Regions from separate parts of the Homo sapiens genome. Here region 2 is linked to region 1. Evidence: fine-mapped expression QTL. A gene starts in region 1. The other region holds a variant in brackets. All regions are shown on one strand. Distances are between the middles of the regions.

What was found. PIP is the estimated chance that this variant, and not a neighbour inherited with it, causes the effect.
Region 2: its variant is the best candidate, but not a certain one, in a credible set for the expression of HK2 in monocytes (BLUEPRINT, PIP 0.53).

The regions. Positions count from the first base shown.
Region 1 is chr2:74,831,108-74,836,479 of GRCh38, forward strand. HK2 (hexokinase 2) reads left to right here and starts at 3,020. Exons shown (of 18, transcript NM_000189.5): 1 at 3,020-3,536. The coding sequence starts at 3,474. HK2-DT (HK2 divergent transcript) reads right to left here and starts at 2,880. Exons shown (of 1, transcript NR_185897.1): 1 at 1,548-2,880. RefSeq lists silencers at 2,512-2,581, 2,762-2,991, 3,912-4,161 and enhancers at 3,738-4,614, 4,392-4,461.
Region 2 is chr2:74,854,692-74,860,063 of GRCh38, forward strand. All of the region lies in intron 2 of HK2 (hexokinase 2), which reads left to right. Among named protein-coding and RNA genes, the nearest start is that of HK2, 23 kb to the left of the region's middle. RefSeq lists an enhancer at 954-1,494. The variant C/T (reference allele first, on the strand shown) is at 3,345.

The sequences.
Region 1 (5,372 bases):
GGTAGCCCTGCTCTGCAAAGACCAGTGCCTCTGCTCCTGATGTACACTGCCACTTCAATATAAGCTGCTGTCTAATGCCACCTGCTTGCCCTTGAATTTTTTTTTTTTTTTGAAATGGAGTCTCTTTCTGTTGCCCAGGCTGGAGTGCAGTGGCGCGATCTCGGCTCACTGCAAGCTCCGCCTCCCGGGTTCACGCCATTCTCCTGCCTCAGCCTCCCGAGTAGCTGGGACTACAGGAGCCCGCCACCACGCCTAATTTTTTGTATTTTTTTTTTTTTTAGTAGAGATGGGGTTTCACCGTGTTAGCTAGGATGGTCTCGATCTCCTGACCTCGTGATCCGTCCACCTCAGCCTCCCAAAGTGCTGGGATTACAGGTGTGAGCCACCGCGCCCGGCATCCCTTGAATTCTTTACTGGGTGAAGCCAAAAATCTTCCCAGGCTAAGTCCAAATTTTGGGGCCTGCCTGCCCTGCATCATGAGGAGGTATCTGAGTGGAACGTCAATGAGGAGGAAGAATGAGTTGGAGACAGGCCTGGAGAAGAATATTCTAGATAGAAGGAAAAGGAAGAGCAAAGACCCTTGGGTGAGAAAGAGTTTGTATTTTTGAGGAAAGCATGCTAGTGTGAATGCCAAGCAGTATTCTGTGGGAAGATCTCAGGAGGTGTCTAAGGGCATGGAGATAAGTGGTCAGATGCACGGTCTGTTTTATAGGTGGAATTAACTGCTTGCTGATGGATTGACTGGCTGTGAGGGTGAGTGGCAAGAAGGAATCGAAGACGAGTTAGGGTGGATGGCGATGCCATTTGCTGAGACAACTGGGAAAGAAAAAGATTTGGGAAAAAAAGTTGAGTTCAGCTTTGGACATGTTAAGTGTGATATGCTAGTCACTTCAGTGGAGATGACAAATGGCAAGCTGGAGAAATAAGCCTGCAACTCCAGGAGAGGACCTCGCTGTAGATTTACTATGGTGAGTCATCAGCATGCATATGATATAACAGTCATGGGGCTAGGAAGTTAGTTTCTCCTCAGGGAGTTTGAAACTGTAACTAGTTCAGAGAAGAGGGTGGAGGGCAGCCCCGAATACCCCAGCATTTACCAATAGAGCAAACAGGGACTCAGGAGCCTGGGGAGTGAGGTTAGCCAGAAACCCTCAGAGTGGAGCACTGGTGCTCTTACTGAGAGAGGAAGGTGTGTCCAGATGGAGGATGTGATTAACTGTCCTCAACATCCCTGAGAGAAGGAGTAAGACAAGGGCAGGGAAGAGAAGAGAATGCAAGATTTGGCAACATGTAGGTCATTATGATGACTATGACAAAAGCAGTTTGAGCTCAATTCTGTGTGGAGTATAGGGAAGGAGGGTTGAGGACGTGCATTTAGAAGGGTACATAGTTCTCAAGAAGTTTTGCTGAGCACATCTGTAATCCCAGCTATTTGGGACGCTGAAGTGGGAGGACTGCTTGAGCCCAGGAGTTCAAGACCAGCCTGGGCAACATATCGAGTCCCTGCTTTAAAAAAAAAAAAAAGGAAGTTTTGCTGAGAGGCTAGATGGATTATGATTTTTGTTTATTTTTCCTGTTTATCCATATATTATTTTTCAACAATGAGTATTGATTACTTATATAATAATTTTAAGGCTGTACACATTGCAGACAGCACCCCACTGTTTGAAAAACTCCTCCTCAGTAGAACATGGCAGACCTTCATCTTCCTTCCCTGAACCTTTTCCAACCTTAGGCTTGCCATTCTCCACCAGTGCTAATGTCATGTCTCTTGAAATCTGTATTGAAGTCAGTATTTCATTCTTGCCAGTTTCCACTGTGTGTTTAAATTTGGAGTCTGGTGTCTAGCATTAGCTGGGGTTGGAGCTTCCACTCCTCTCAGCATTGGTAAGCCTCCTCACCCACCCCATCCCATGTCCAAGATCACCCAGTTACACACTTACCATCTACCCAGTTCATTCACATCATCAGTCCCAGAGCTGCAGAGATGCTCTTTTTCTACCTCCTACTTCTCTGGCTCTTAGAGAGGCAGCATGGGATAATGGGGCAAGCGAATAGGGCCTTAAAGTAGAGGGACAAGGGTTCTCTTCCCTATCTGCCACTTATTAGCTATGTGACCTCGTGTAAGTCTCTTTTCTTTTTGAGACAGGGTCTCCCTCTGTCACCTAGGCTGGAGTACAGTGGTATGATCATAGCTCACTGCAGCCTCGAACTCCTGGGCTCAAGCTATCCTTCCACCTTAGCCTTCTGAGCAGCAGGGACTACAGGCACATGCCACCATGTCCGGCTGATTTATTTATTTTTATTTGGGAAGATGGGGGTCTCACTATGTCGCCCAGGCTGGTCATGAACTCCTGGTCTCAAGCAACCCTCCAACCTTGGACTCCCAAAGTGCTGGGATTACAGGTGTGAGCCCTGGCCTTGCCTCAATTTCCTCATCTGTAAAACGGGGTTAGTGAAACTCACATCCTATCAGTGGTTTTGAGGATGGGCCGACTCTTGTATTGCCTGCTCTAGTACAATCAGCAGCTAAGGCGGCTCACTTTCCGGCCGTGCTACAATAGGTAAGAACTAGGATGCTTTAGACGTGTGACTGGGCAGTGGGAGCCCCTCACATGATCCCGAGATGCCAGACAGTGTCTCTCCGCACAGGGCGTGTGCTGGTCCAGAGGCCCGTTTTTCCAGTCGCCCCACACCCCGGGTCCGCGATCACGCTCCCCCCACCCATAGCCGAGCCTGACGCGGCGGTGGCTCATGCGCCTTTCCGTCCCAGCCTTTAGCCACGGACCACACGTCCCATCTCAGGCGCCCCGCCCCTCCCCCGCCCCCCGCCCCCGGCGCGCCTCCCCAGGCTGCCGGCTCCGGTGTCTGAGCGGCCGCGCCCGCGAGCCGTGAGCGATGATTGGCTGCGCCACGGCGGCGGGCGGTCCGTGGGCGCACACACCCTCCCCGCGCAGCCAATGGGCGTGCGCACGTCACTGATCCGGAGGCCCGCGGGCCGGCAGCCCCTCAATAAGCCACATTGTTGCATGAAACTCCGGCGCAGGAGTCCCGGGCTGCCGCTGGCAACATCGTGTCACCCAGCTAAGAAAATCCGCGGGCCCGAGCCACGCGCCTGTGAATCGGAGAGGTCCCACTGCCCGAGTGGAGCCGGGCTGAGATTCTTCTCAAGTTGAGCCTCAGTGATCCTGTGGCCGAAGTTAGCGCCTTGACGTGGGACAACCGGACACGTCGCCAGGAGAGAACTGAGGCGCCTTCTAGCAGTTGTGACGCCAAAATCACGTCTCCGGAGACCCGCGCCCTCCGCCAGCCGGGCGCACCCTCGCCGGTAGCCTTCTTTGTGCGCCGTCCGGACTCCCAGCTCCCGGCCCGGCAGCCGAGCCCCAGCACAAAGCAGTCGGACCGCGCCGCCCGCCTCCCCTCTCGCGTCTCCGCCTCGGTTTCCCAACTCTGCGCCGTCGGGCCGCGGCAGGATGATTGCCTCGCATCTGCTTGCCTACTTCTTCACGGAGCTCAACCATGACCAAGTGCAGAAGGTAAGTCAGCGCGGGCGGGGCGGCAGGCTGGGCTCTGGCAAAGTGGTCTGGCCTCCATCAGTCTCTTCCTCGACCCTGCGGGGACCCGCTTCCTCCCTACTCCGGGCCTGGGAGCGGAAAAAGTTTGGGCAGCCGGGACACTCCTGGGCGCCAGGAGCCACGTCCGCTAAGCACAGCCGGCGAGTGCGCGCGGGCGGGGAGCCGAGGTCGCGCTCCGCCGGGCGCCCTCCCTCCCTGAGCTCCGGCACGCGCTCACGCTCTCTCCCCCAGTCCCTTTTTCCCTGTTACTGGAGGGGCGGGTCACCCCGCAGGTAGTCAGGGATTGCTGCGCCCACGTGGGAGGGAGCCCCCTTCTGCAGCGCGAGTTCCGGCGAGAGCACGTGGAGAGAATCGTGGCTGCGGGAGGCTGCTCCGCTGCCGCGTGGGGCCGCCGGGGGCCGTCCGCGCTCGCGGACCGCGTGTAGGAGACGAGCGGTTCCCTTCTCCTTCCCCGCGGCCCTGCGGGGGTGGGCTCGAGGAGAAGCTGACCCGGGAAGGAGTAGGAAAGGGGCAGAGGAACTCCGCCCGCCGCGCCCCCTCCCCGGAACTGTGGCGCCCGGAACTGAGGCTCGGCGAGGGGCGTCCCCCATTAACCCCCGCCCCTCCAAATCAGCCTCGGGACCGCCCAGCCTCGTGTCCTCAGGATCTGCCTCTGAGTAAGGGGAGGACTTTGGTTGTTACTTTCTGGTTTGCCCTAAAAGTTACTCGGAGAGGCCAACGCGCCGCGTTCCTGGATTACTTGAGATTCTTGAGATTTATGTCCTTCCGAAAACGAGCTTTTTTTTCCTTAAGCCTCGACCTGTCTGTTCCCACCTGGCTCCGCAGCTCCCTATGGCTGAGCGCTCACCGCGGCCGGGTCATTTACATAAGAAAGAGCCTCAGGCCAAGCCGGGAAGCTCTCATTCCCCGCCTCGGGGTATGGGGGTGGGGATGGGGCCGGGGCCGGGGACGGGCAGGGCCAGGGGCGCGCTCAGAATTGAGTTTCTGAAATGCCCGGGATTAGGGGATTGGCTCCTGGCCCGGGCCTGGGCTACGATTTGAGGTAGGGGACAAGTTGGGAGGGGATTAGCTGGAGGGAGGTTGTTTTAAGAGCTGTGAGGCAACGGAGCGTTGCTCAGTTACATACTTGGAATTTCAATATCTGATGGGAACACATTTTTGGGAAAATGTCTTGCCATTACCGTTCTGTGCGACAACCTGCTCATATTCCCATTCTGGCGGTCCCGAGGGCATAGGAGGCATATTAATGTAGTGATGGCGCGTGAACCTCCAAGAAAAGCAGAAGTTACCCAGCCTCAAGTCTGGAGGAGCGAGCAGAGGCGGTTGATTTACTTGGGTTTTACTGTTTGTAAATGGCTGTTATTCTCTAATTCCTGGGATGTGGCTCTGCACCTTGATTCAGTTTACTTAAAAACGTGCCTTTGATTTGAGCTGGCAGGATCTTGGTAACTTCTCAACTTCTAAGAACTCTTGGGGAAGGCTATCATCTCTTGGCAAGTCCTAAAATACACAGTGGAGCGTCATTAATCTCAGGGAGTTCTCCTTTGGGTATTACCCCAGGACATTTGAATCCTTGCATAAATTTACTCTTCCTCAATCCAGAGGAGGGCACCAGGGTTGGAACCCCGTTGGAGTTATACCACTCTCAATCTTGGAATGGGGGTCATCTCTCTTCCCCCAGAGTGGAACGGGAATTAACCAGGGTATCTGGAAATGAGTTGTAATCTCTGTCTTGTGGTTTATTAACCATAGCACCCTGAGCCTCTTTGGACAGCCCGTTTCTCTTTGTGAAATGCA
Region 2 (5,372 bases), 24 kb after region 1:
CATTTGTTTTCTACCTGTGTGCTGAGAAAGGCTGCTTGGCTCAGTTTGGCATTTTATGGTCCCACTGAGATTGCACGCAGTGATGGTGATGAACTACAACAAACGTACCTCACGTGGCCACAACTGTAGGCCGTGGGAGCCGCTCTGTGGCTCACCTGTGCATGCTCTAACTGGGACGCCGGACGCCGTGTAGGCATGTGGGAGGGACAGTGTAGTGCAGATTGACCTAGATTTTTTTCTTGAGCCCCATGTAAAAAGTACTAGAAATCCAAATAGACTTGGACAAAGTATGGAGCGTCACAGTGCATATATATATATTTTTTTGAGACAGTTTCACTCTTGTTGCCCAGGCTGGCGTGCAATGATGCGATCTCGGCTCACCGCAACCTCCGCCTCCTGGGTTCAAGTGATTCTCCTGCCTCACCCTCTGGAGTAGCTGGGATTACAGGCATGTGCCACCAAGCCCGGCTAATTTTGTATTTTTAGTAGAGATGGGGTTTCTCATGTTGGTCAGGTTGGTCTCGAACTCCTGACCTCAGGTGATCCGCCCGCTTCAGCCTCCCAAAGTGCTAGGATTACAGCTACCGCGCCCGCTGCCACAGTGCATATTAAGGAATTAAAGGCTCAGAAGTCCTGCAATACAAACCTATTAAGCTTTGTTTAATCATCTTATTTGGATACAGAGTACTTTTTTTTGAGATGGAGTCTCGCTCTGTCACCCAGGCTAGAGCGCAGTGGCGTGATCTCCATTAGCCAGAATGGTCTATATCTTTTGACCTCGTACCCGCCCACCTCGGCCTCCCAAAGTGCTGGGATTACAGGCGTGGCTACCGCACCCAGCCCAGAATCCTTATTTTATGGTACACCACCCAGCAAGTGATTTAATCAGGCAGGGGAAAAAGGATCACGGTGGAGATTCAAGTTGGAAAGGTCCAGTGGATTAGGGCTAGGTCACTGAAGGCCTTGAATGCAAGCCTAAAACATTTAATCTCTGCAGTAGCATTGGGGAGTAAATGCAAGGTTTTGAGGGGTGTCTTGGTAATGTTACATCATTGGCAGTATAGGTAGAGTGGAGGGGGAGCGAGGCCCAGCTGGTAGAGCACAAGACATGGCTCTGGTGGGTGGGCAAAAAGAGTATTCAAGGGTGGGGCCCGGCTGTTGAGCCCAGCTGCCTGGGAATGGCAACATCCCAGAGAAGGGGACCGAACAAAGTTGTGTCAGAGCTTTTATTTAATCCTCATAATAGGTGCCTCCATTTTAGAGATGAGGTGCTTGTGAGGCCCATGACGGGTGGTGGGTGGGGGGTAGGTACTCACATCTAGAGGACAGGAGAGAGAACCCAAGGGGCAGCTGCCAGGGCAGAGGAAGAACCAGGAGGCACAGTGTCCAAGAATCTAAGGGGGACGAGATCTCCAGGAAGCTGGCAGGTCGCTGGTGAGGCATCTACAGGGGCGTTGTTGGGAGGGGAGTAGGGGCAGGGCGTGGGTCAGGGCTTGTTAATGCCACGCGCCTGTGCTGTTTCCAGCACATGTGTGTCCTTGAGGCTCATCTCCCTAAGTGCCTCTAGGGACCTGGTTCGTCTGAGACTGTATCGTTCCCAAAATAAGTAAGTGTTTGCTGAAGCCTTGGGACCCAGCCTGGACCCAGTGCTGAGGGTATGACCTTGCTTAGGATTGTTTCCTGAGTGTGTTTCTTGGCCCTTCAAAGAGCCCCTCGAGGTGAGGGGCCTCTTATCTCTTCCATGTCCTCTAGATTGGCATGTTTACCTACCACTCCCTCTGACTGGAAACCACACCCACTTCTGAGATTTTTATTTGACATTCAGATAAATGTACACACTCCGGAAGGCCAGGGCCTTGTCTTTATTTCACCCAGCACTAACACTAAGTAAGTACCCTAAATCTTTTCTAAATACATATGGGCTAAGGACTCTTTTGGGCACCTCAATGTATTAACTCATTTACTTTTCAAAAACCTTTATGGTAAGTACAAATTTTATCCACAATTTTTAGATGAGGAATTTGAGGTTCAAATGTCAAACAAGTTGTCCAAAATCCTACAGCCAGTGGGAGGCCGAGTTAGGAATCAAGCTTGTGTAAGCCAAAGTTCAGGCATCGGTACTGCACGTGATGTGTTATATGTGTTCATGTATGTGTTAGCCTGTGCACTTGGCGCTGGAGCACACTGCAAATGCTCAACTAAAATTTTTTTGGAACGGAGTTGGGACTGATTGTTTGGACTGTATTATAGGCAGGTGAATTAAGTTTGTTGGGGAGAACTAATTATGGGGCAAGCTTTCAAAATTCTCATTGCTTTCCTGAAGCTGGAGGCTCCAAGACCTCCCATGCACCTTGAAGCTTGCACTGTTTGCAGCACATACTGGAATGTCTTACTCACTGAAACAAAGGAAGTGGCCCCTGGAATAATGGAGACCAGATTGCAGGAAACCCACACCTAATCCCTCCCTCCGCATTTGCAGGGGGTCCATAGGTTAGCTCCTCACCTCCATACTCTCTGGGACTCAGCCTTTGCTTTTGTAAAGTAAAGAGGTTGGACCTAGCAGTTCTAGTCTGTTCTGCACATCTACTAGAACTATTGTGCTAGTCTATTCACACAAACACTTCTGAGATCCTGTAATGGGAGATAAACCCTTGGTGTTCATTGGATGGTGTCTTAGTTCATTTTTGTGTTGCTGTAAAGTGGGACATATGTATATATGACAACTCAGCAATTCCACTTCCAACTATATGCCCTGAACAGACTCCTGTATGAATCCAAGGAGACATGGCTGAATAATGTTCATTACAGTGTTGCTTAATCGCACCTATAATCCCAGCTACTCAGGAGGCCGAGGCAGAGAGAATCAATCACCTGAACCTGGGAGATGGAGGTTGCAGTGAGCCGAAGTTGCGCCACTGCACTCCAGCCTGGGTGACAGCATGAGACTCTGTCTCAAAAAACAAACAAAAATAGATAAATTTAAAAAAAATAAAGTGGTCAGCATCAGGGCTCTCAAGTTTTGCTTTGTCAGTTGGGGGTATGAGTTATGGAATATGGCAGTGAAAATAGGTGACTCCTAAGTTGATACAGACTATCAAAAATGAAAATTCTCTATTGTCAGCACCCCAGTGAAGTGCTGCGAGGAAAGGCCGAGGTGAAGTTGTGTTAGCGATTCCCCCCATGTGGTCGCACACAGCCTGGGTGCCTGCCGCTGCTGCTGGGGGTGAAGCTGCATCCCTCTCCCACAGAAGGCTCGAGGCCTTTTCTCCAGGGGCACCTGTTCAGTGCCACCTTTCTCAGAACATTCGTTTCTCAGCCCGTTCATGGCTAGTATTCTTTTCAAA[C/T]CTGAGAAACCAAACCCCAGATCTAGAGGGAGCCAATTTTTAAATCCATAGCTTTCTAACTTTTCTGGGCTATATCTTCACAGCAAGAAACACATGCATATAAATATTTATATGAAAGGAAATAAATTTGGGGACCAGAATTTATTCTTAAACATGATGAAGTTGGGTTTGTCTTCTATTCTTTAAGAAAGTTGCTAGTCAGAACCTGCTAAATGTTTTTCACTTTGCAGTTTGAAAGCCACTGCCTTAAATGATCCTTGGCCCAGTTTGATTCTAGATGAGCATTTCCTTTCTTGCTGGCACGAAATATGTAGTTTCAGGACAGTGTGGGGTGAGAGGTGAGAATCAGAATTATAGGTTCAAATGGGTTTGAATTCAAGCTGTGTGCTTCAGAGCGATTTATGATGTGATCCTCTATTTCCTCATTTGTGAAAAGGGGAAACTTCAGGGGGATCGGTTTTCTGAGAATTAAGGGAGAATCAGATATGTGACTTTCTCACATGTGTTACAAACACTCCTGCAGCCACAAACCACCACTGCAAAAGGCACTCTCATTGCCAAATTTACTAAGAAAAGGTGTGTAAGACTCCCAGGTTTTAATTTTGGAAGATTGGCATCAAGGGAGCAGGTGTGAGGGTTCATCCCCATCACCAGGGGCCCTGCATTTTGGAGTGAAGACCAGGCCCCAGCTCTTATACCAGCTCCAATTATCTAATTGTAATCAAAGTCCTATTAGAAAATGTGGAGAAACCAGAAAGTTTCAGGCCATTTATTTGTGGTGGAGGCCTCCCCATCACGGCTTATGGGCTCTTGTGTGAGAAGGCAGGGAATGTCAGTAGCCACTGAACCCCGTAGGGGTGAAATGTTCAAGGTAAATCGTGAAGTACCTGTGCTTCATAGGTTGTGTGGCCTACACAGTGTGAAGAAACACAGTTGGCATAATTAAAAGTGCAATAGACATAAACGGTCCAGGAATGTCTTACTCAATGACTGAATTTGGTGTCAGCCAGAATACATTAAAAATGGTCTCTATTTGTCGTTTTGCTTCTTTCCCAAACAGTTTTAAGAAGTTGAAAGAATTCTATAGTGGTCATCTATATTTTACTTGGTTTGCTTTATCAACCCCCCAATCCTTCTATCCATCAGTCCAGCTTGTTATAATTGATGCATTACAAAACATAAATTGCTGAGAAAGTATAGTAAATACTAATACTGAACTCTAGTTACTATGTATGCTGAAGTTTTAGGGTTCAGACGTATACTTACATAGTAACTAGAGTTCAATATTTGCTGTATTTTCTTGTGATGTAAGATCTAGATGAAGTGAAATAAATCTTAAGAGTATTATCTGATAAAAAAATAAATAGAAGGCCGGGCATGGTGTCTCATGCCTGCAATCCCAGCACTTTGGGAGGCTGAGGCGGGCAGATCACAAGGTCAGGAGATCGAGATCATCCTGGCTAACACGGTGAAACCCTGTCTCTACTAAAAATACAAAAAATTAGCCAGGCGTGGTGGCAGGCGGCTGAAGCAGGAAGAATGGTGTGAACCCGGGAGGCAGAGCATTCCAGCCTGGGCCACAGAGCGAGACTCCATCTCAAAAAAAAAGAGTATTATCTGATGAATTGACAAATACACCTGTTTAATACAACCTCCATCAGAAAAGGGAATGCTTATACACTGTTGGTGGGAATGTAAATAAGTACATCCTCTATGGAAAACAGTATGGAGATTTCTCAAAGAACTAAAAATAGAACTGCCATTCCATCCAGCAATCTCACTATTGAGTATCTACCCAAAGGAAAAGAAATCATACCAAAAAGATGCCTGCACTTGTATGTTTATCACAGCACCATTCACAATAGCAAAGATGTGGAGTCGATGCCCATCAATGGACAGATGATTGGATAAAGAAACTGTGGTATATATACATAATAGAATACTGTTCAGTCTTAAAATAGAATGAAATAATGTATTTTGCAGCATCATGGATGGAACTGGAGGCTGTTATTTTAAGTGAAACAGCTC